Linked DNA regions of Homo sapiens. The protein of the gene in region 1 interacts with the protein of each later gene in a biochemical or structural test. Each region holds a gene or a part of one and is shown on either strand. Other genes may lie near its edges.

Region 1 (3,756 bases):
CCAATAAAATGGCATATGTTTATTGGCTTAGAAACTAAAATACATTAAGATCAAAACAAGGCAAGTTTAACAATATTTAAGTATGAGATATCACTGCCTCTTATTGTTAGCACAGTAATGCTTTATGCTATTAGACATGTCAAAACGGCACAAATAGGAAGAGTTGATGAATGCTTTAAAAAGAACTATGAGGAAGGCTTACATTTTTTAGTTGTCAATCTCTCAAAGAGTTTCTGTTTTTATTCTATCTTGCTATTTTAACCAGTTGATTAGGCTCACCCAGTGGCAGTCTTCATTTCAAGGATCTCCTCTGGACATTCATGAAGGAAATAAATGGGGCTCCAGATCCCTTTCCTTCCCTTCAGGGCGCTCCACTGTAAGATCATTTAGGGAAAATGTGGTGTTATGTTAAAAACATAGCTGGGCCACATCAAGCAGCATCATAGTTTTTAGGGTATAGAACGTTGGTCTTCAGGTTAAAAGGTACTTTTCGCTGCTCTGTCATACTCTTCTACTTGCTAGAGAAATATGCTTTATGCCGTGTCATGTGTGGTTAACCAGACAGTGAGATACTACTAACAGTGCTCCCAAGTGATTCCTTGCTGTTAAATCAATTGGAATTATTGAGTATTACCACAAAATAATCCTATCTGATTTCATTACTTTCTTCTAACGTCCTTCCAGTAACCTAGAACTCTAGAGACCTCTTTCTTTGAGAGTTGTCTGGAGAGTCCGTTGGATTTTTAAATCTCTTATTACCAAAAAGTGGAAAAAAGAGTTTAAAAAGTAACCAAAGAGCTAGTGCCTGTAGTCTCAGCTACTCCAGAGGCTGAGGCAGGTGGATAGCTTGGGCCGAGGAGTTCGAGGCTACAGTGAGCCATGACTGCGCCTGCTAACAGCCACTGCACTCCAGTCTGGGCAATATAGTGAGACCCCATCTCTAAAAAAACAACAAACAAAAACAAAAATTACCCCACAGAAGAATTTCAGGGCAGTGGAAATACTCTGTAGGATACTATAATGATGGATACCTGCCATTACACATTTGTTCTAACTCGAGGAGTATACAACAACCTGAGTGAACCCTGAGGTAACTATGGACTTTGAGTGATGATGAGGTGTCAATGCAGGTTCATCAGTCGTAACACATGTACCACTCTGAGGGGGGATGTTGATAATGGTGGGGGGTTATGCATGCGTAGGAGCCAAGTGTATATGGGATATCTCTGTAACTTCTCAATTTTTCTGTAAACTCTAACTACTCTATATTAGTCTTTAAAAAATCGCTTATCTTACGAATGATTTTGAATAAGCGTTTTGGGAATGTTCTAGAGATGAATCTCCTCCCCATGTCCTACGCTGGGTGAGGAAGTGTCGGGTACCCGGGCGACCTGTCCTCAGGTGTTCTAGGAACGCGGCCCCATCCCTTGTCAGCCTCTGTCTCTGTGTGGTGAGAAGGCGCACTGGCTCGTGCCTGCGCGAAACTCGCGCACACAGAAAAGACCAATCAAGGACGGGTCATTCCCGCCCCCCGCGCGCCTTTTGCGACCGCCCACTCGACAGGTTGACAACCTAGACAGCTCCCCCGGACTTGCCTTACTTTTCCATCTCCTCCCACCCAGCTATACCCTCCCACTGGCGGCGCGGATGGCACGCCGGCGGAGCCAGCGAGTCTGCGCGAGCGGTCCGAGCATGCTCAATAGCGCGCGCGGCGCCCCGGAGCTTCTCCGCGGAACCGCGACCAACGCGGAGGTCTCGGCGGCCGCTGCGGGAGCCACAGGAAGTGAAGAGCTTCCGCCGGGAGACCGCGGCTGCAGGAACGGAGGCGGAAGGGGCCCTGCGGCGACGACGTCGTCGACGGGGGTGGCCGTGGGAGCTGAGCACGGAGAAGACTCCCTCTCTCGGAAGCCGGATCCCGAGCCGGGCAGGATGGATCACCACCAGCCGGGGACTGGGCGCTACCAGGTGGTGAGTTCCCGGCCTCCTGTGCCTCCCGGGACTGCCTCCCGCCGCGGCGTCCCGAGAGTCCCTTTCCTCAGGTTATTCCCGGAGGAAAAGCTGTGGCTTTTTTTTGTTGTGTTTTGTTTTGTTTTTTTGGATCTTCTGGCTGGAGCTGCTTCACTCGCCTCACCTGCGCACTCCTGCCTAGGACTCCTTCGAAACCCTTCTCTCTCGCCCCAAGTCTGCTTAGCTCCTCACCCGCACCCTTAGCCCCGCTGTGAGACGCCCTCCCTCCACACACCTTACAACTTGTATCCGTTTTAATTTCTCACTTTATCATTTTCTTATTCTCTGACTCAGTCACTCCTGAGACATTCTAGTCGATTGTCTACTGGAAATGGGGCTGACTTCACATACCTGCCCGGAAGGTGATCGCCGTCATAAATGGGGTGGGTGAGTAGGTGGGTGGAGGTGTAAGTACTGCGTGGGGTGGGATGTGGATTTGGCAAAAATGTGGGTTAGGAATTGTGGAACTGTAGAGAAAGACTAGCCATAATGCTGATCTTGTCTCTCTGCTCGTTAACCTTGTCATTTTGTCCTTTTCCATTATGTTAGTATTAAAAATGACTGTATTTTTTGGTAATCCCCACTTTTTCTTTCTTTCTTTCTTTCTTTTTTTTTTTTTTTTTTTTTTTTTTGGTTAGAGGGGAAACAGAGGTAGTTTTAGTAGAACAAATTCTAATCTTGTTTGAAAAATTATTTTTCGTTAAATACAAGGTTTTCCAGCTTAACTGTGTAAACTTTGGTAACTATGTTGAAAAAAGTGAAATGTGTTCCTCTATATTTTCAGTGTCAATTTTTAAATATATTTTTCTTTGTGTATTCTGGTGGTGACGTTGGAGATTCCTGTTGTAAACCTTAGTTAAAGATGGACTGAGCAATAGTTGACTCTGCTGTTGTGCTGTTGCAGCTAGGTAGCATGTCATTCTACAAACTTTCAGCCCATTTACTGAGGGAGAGGAGAAAAACAATACATAGCACTGGTGATGCAGTTTATGGTTTATAAAATTTTACAAATTTAGGTATGTTAGTCCCAGGTTTCAACTTTCAAATCTATTTGCACATGTAAGACAGGTTATAAGCCAAGACTTTCTATTAATAAGTACATTTTGGCAAATATGAAGGAACTGTAAGATGAGATCCTAAAGTATGTAATTTTGCATTTTTCTAAGATAAAAGCTCATGAGGCTTCCATTTTCAATTGGTTTGCATTCCTTAAAACCTACAAAAGGTCCATATTCCGAATTCTTTGAAAATTTATCAGCTTTTCTCAACAACTTGGGAAATACTGTTTCTCCCAGTATGGAAAGCGTTTTTCAAGTTGTCAGTGTACACCCTTTTGATGGTTTGAAAGGCATTTCTAGGTTTGTAAATGTTAGCAAAAATAAAATGATATAAATATTGAATAATATCAGCAGTGAAACTTGTTTCATTTTTCCTACAGACGTCACTACCCAAAACACTGTTAATTTATGTAGCTCTCAGTTTTAAGATATTTGTTTTCCCAACAACTCCTTTCAAAATAAATGGGCATATTTTATTGCTGCCCCCTCCCCTCGTTTTTTTCAAACTGACGATGTGTCCTACATAGACTTTGAATGTTCCTTGAGAACAGAGGGCAAAAATCAGTTCTTCTAAAGATAAAGCCTACCAGTCCCTCTAAAGGTAGTACTTTAGGTAGGACATCGATCTGTTCTCCTTGTAAGGCAACTTACAACTAACATTGTAAGGCAATGTTAGTGTTAGAGTTACACA
Region 2 (3,347 bases), on another chromosome or scaffold:
CAAAATTAAAAGCTATGGCCTGGATTATGGCAGAAACAGGGGGCTGGAACAGCACCTTCCCAGGCTGGCTTGAGTGGGTGGGAGTGGATTCCCTTCTAACTGGGAAACTAATTCTCATGCCTGAGAGGAAGGAGGAAAAGACACTTCGTTCTGAATTAACACTCCGAACTCTTTTTCTCATAGAAATGATGTTGTAAATAGTGGTTGGCTACAAGAATGGCTTCTTTGATGAGCAGCAAGGTGCCTGAAATCCAGTCCATTTTTAGCTATTATTTTTATCTTCTGGCTATTTCACTAACAACCAGACTTATGCAATACGACCTTTTTGTAAAGTGGAAATTAATTATCTGTGGTTGAGAGTTTATAATCATGTTAGTTCATCAGGTAATAAGTTTAGGATTGCACTGAAAATTTAACGTGCTGCTGTGAGGAACTAGACCAGAAGACATCACCCAGCATACTGACTTGGAAACACTCCTATTTTATAATGAACCACAGTTTTGTTTTGTTTTTTAAAATCAGAATAGAACTTTATTTGTGGATTCAAGATTTTAAAAAATGATTTTACACTTTAAAGTGTGCAATAAATTTTGATACATCAATCTTGATATATATATTTACTGTGTCAGAAGATTTTAAAAAGTCAAATAGTTTATAATCAAAATGAATTGTGTTTAACTTGATACTTATATGGAATAACTTCAGCATTATAAATAAAAACCCAAAACAAACACCATTTAAATTTGAGTTCTGATGAAATGCATTTGTAATACAATTTTGTTAAAAATTTTTAATAAGAGATTGTAGGCTAAAGTTATATGCTTGTAATTTCTAGAAACATATGATGTCCTTGCTTTATGAAAATGATCCTACTGACTGTCCCGCAGTAGAATGCATTTGAGACACTTTTCTATCTGGGATAAGGGGCTGTGTTGCTTGATAGATGTTTCTTCCAGACCACGAGCCCCTAGTGGGAGATGAAGGGGATGAAGGTCTGCAGCTGGGGACTGGTGGCAGTTGAGTCTGGTCTCATTTAACATCATGTTCTATGAGTCACAGAATCATCCAAATGAGTATCAGCCAGATACAAAGAAAGCTTTGTATTTTCTCATGCTTAGATAGTTCACAAACATAATATTTAAATAATTGTGGCAAAATCCTGTTTTAACAAAAATAATTTTCACATTCCATTCTACATAATGAGGACATTTCCAAAATGCATTGGCCCACATTACTATTACTTTGCTGATATGAAGAAAATGAATTATGATGGTAAGATCCATATACAGATATACACATGTGTATCCATATTATTTATATATTTAATATCAGAAATGTTCCTACTTCCTTGTCTCTTAGAAGTCACTTTACTTTTAAATGATTCTTTGGGAGTGTGGTCAATTTGCACACCTGACTTGACACAATCTGACGGTCAGCACAAAGCACCTTCTGATTGTATAACACTTTACAAAGTACTTTTTGCTTTCTCATCTGTCTGGAACTTCTGACAATCTGGCATGACAATGAGGGTGGGCATGATTACTCTCATTTGACAGATGAAGAAATATGAATCCAGAGAGGTTAAGTAAGCTGCTTCAGTTCACATGGCTGGTGAGATATCAAACCAGGACTATACCTGGTGCTCATCCTTGACTGCTGGTTGACAATGGTGAAGACAAAACGCAGGGTACATTAATCTGTGAATTGCTTCCCCTAAACCATGCTGATGCTGTGGTGTTTGGAAAGTAGAAAGTGGTTTTGCTACTGTCACATTTCAGATTTCTATCAGGTGCTAATGAGTACTCATCATGTTATACCCCAACAAACTTAAACCAAGAACCAGAGGTACTTTTTACAGTTCTCACAGGGTGTGTATATATATATATTTAAGAAGATTCGTAACATATATTTACAATTATTCCTAAATCACCAAGATACCATACTGAGAAATAGGTTTAATCTTTTTAAGAGCATTTTCTATATAATCATTCCAATATAAGGATGAAACAATATAAGTATGAAATATAAATACAGTCTTGGCACACTTTATCTTTGCAGGTGTGCTGGAACCTAGAACACTTTCCCTTTTGCCTTATTCTGCTTACGCCTACTTTTGATTGTTTTACAAATTCATAGACACATTTGCAAGTTCCTTGAGGATCAGGACTCAGCTTCTCTGAAGCTGACAACTCTTACCCCAGAGCATAGCACAGCGCTAGGCACGCAGCATTCAATAAACGTTTGATGAATACATGTACATGGTCTTTATGTACTTCAGTTTGGTTAAAGGAAGATATGAACTGTAGCATTTTGCCTACAGAATTCTGGATTTGTAATTAAAAACATTGTCTTCATAGTAAACAGTATTTTAAAAGGCATAAGAAATAGTAATAAATTTAATACAAATTATGCATTATAACAACTCTTTGGTTATTTTAAACAAATTATTTGGTTTTTTTACTAGAGTGATACTAAAAATATAAAAATGCGACTACAGAAATTAGCTTAATCTGTAAACATGATAAACCCTGTAAACATACATTTACTACATAATTGTACAAGTGTAAAGAATATCTAGTAAAGGCAAGTGCTATACACTTCATTTAGTTCTTCAAGGCATATTTAGAAATACTGCTTTGTGGATCTTTAATGTTTGAAGAAGGAATTCTTCTAACTACACTAAAATATGAAAAAGTGATGACTATACCAATGGTCAATAGGATATGCAGGCAAGAGAAAGGCTTTAATACTTTTTACCCATTGCAAATATGAATTTGCTTCACATGTCTTATGAACCATCTGTTTAGTAAAACTGCATATTAACAAAAGCCAAATACTTCGAAAGTGAAGAAGTAAACAGTTTTTCTGTGAGTTAGTTGGCTAGAAATATAGGTAACACACTTTCCAAAGTTTTTTCCCAAAAATCTAGGCAGTAAGGTGCATAAGGCAGGTCTACAAAATAATAAATAGCTGCGAGTAGCACTAAATATATTGTAGTTTACTCAATAGTAAAGTATTTCTTTTTCCAAATTTCAGTTTTCCATCTCAAAATGCATCAAACTTTTCACACATGACACGTATCACAAATATTTCACAGTTATCATCTCAGTAGTTTAAGAAAAAACTGCCTGGCAGATACTATACAAGAGGTAAATGTTAAGGACAAAATTCACTATTTAAGTCATACAGGACTTATATCCTATTGTGTGAACTCTAAAGCCAGGTGTGGTGGTGCCTGGCTTTAGGCAGGCACCTAACTCTAAAGACAGCATGAAACAACTGTGTAAATGCAACACATTATTTAAAAGTGATTAAAAATAAGTTGTCGTACTATTTCTTCAAATGCT

The links. Proteins that work in one complex are often made in the same cells at the same time.
Region 2: the proteins of NDFIP2 (region 1) and NEDD4 form a complex in vitro, tested with the Homo sapiens proteins (3 studies listed by BioGRID, with this or other methods).

Annotation. Positions count from the first base shown.
Region 1 is NC_000013.11:79,479,557-79,483,312, forward strand, and holds the start of NDFIP2 (NEDD4 family-interacting protein 2), read left to right. Parts: upstream 1-1,598; 5' UTR 1,599-1,647; coding exon 1,648-1,968; intron 1,969-3,756. UniProt on the Homo sapiens protein: Activates HECT domain-containing E3 ubiquitin-protein ligases, including ITCH, NEDD4, NEDD4L, SMURF2, WWP1 and WWP2, and consequently modulates the stability of their targets. As a result, may control many cellular processes.
Region 2 is NC_000015.10:55,826,419-55,829,765, forward strand, and holds the end of NEDD4 (E3 ubiquitin-protein ligase NEDD4), read right to left. Parts: 3' UTR 504-3,347; downstream 1-503. UniProt on the Homo sapiens protein: E3 ubiquitin-protein ligase which accepts ubiquitin from an E2 ubiquitin-conjugating enzyme in the form of a thioester and then directly transfers the ubiquitin to targeted substrates. Specifically ubiquitinates 'Lys-63' in target proteins.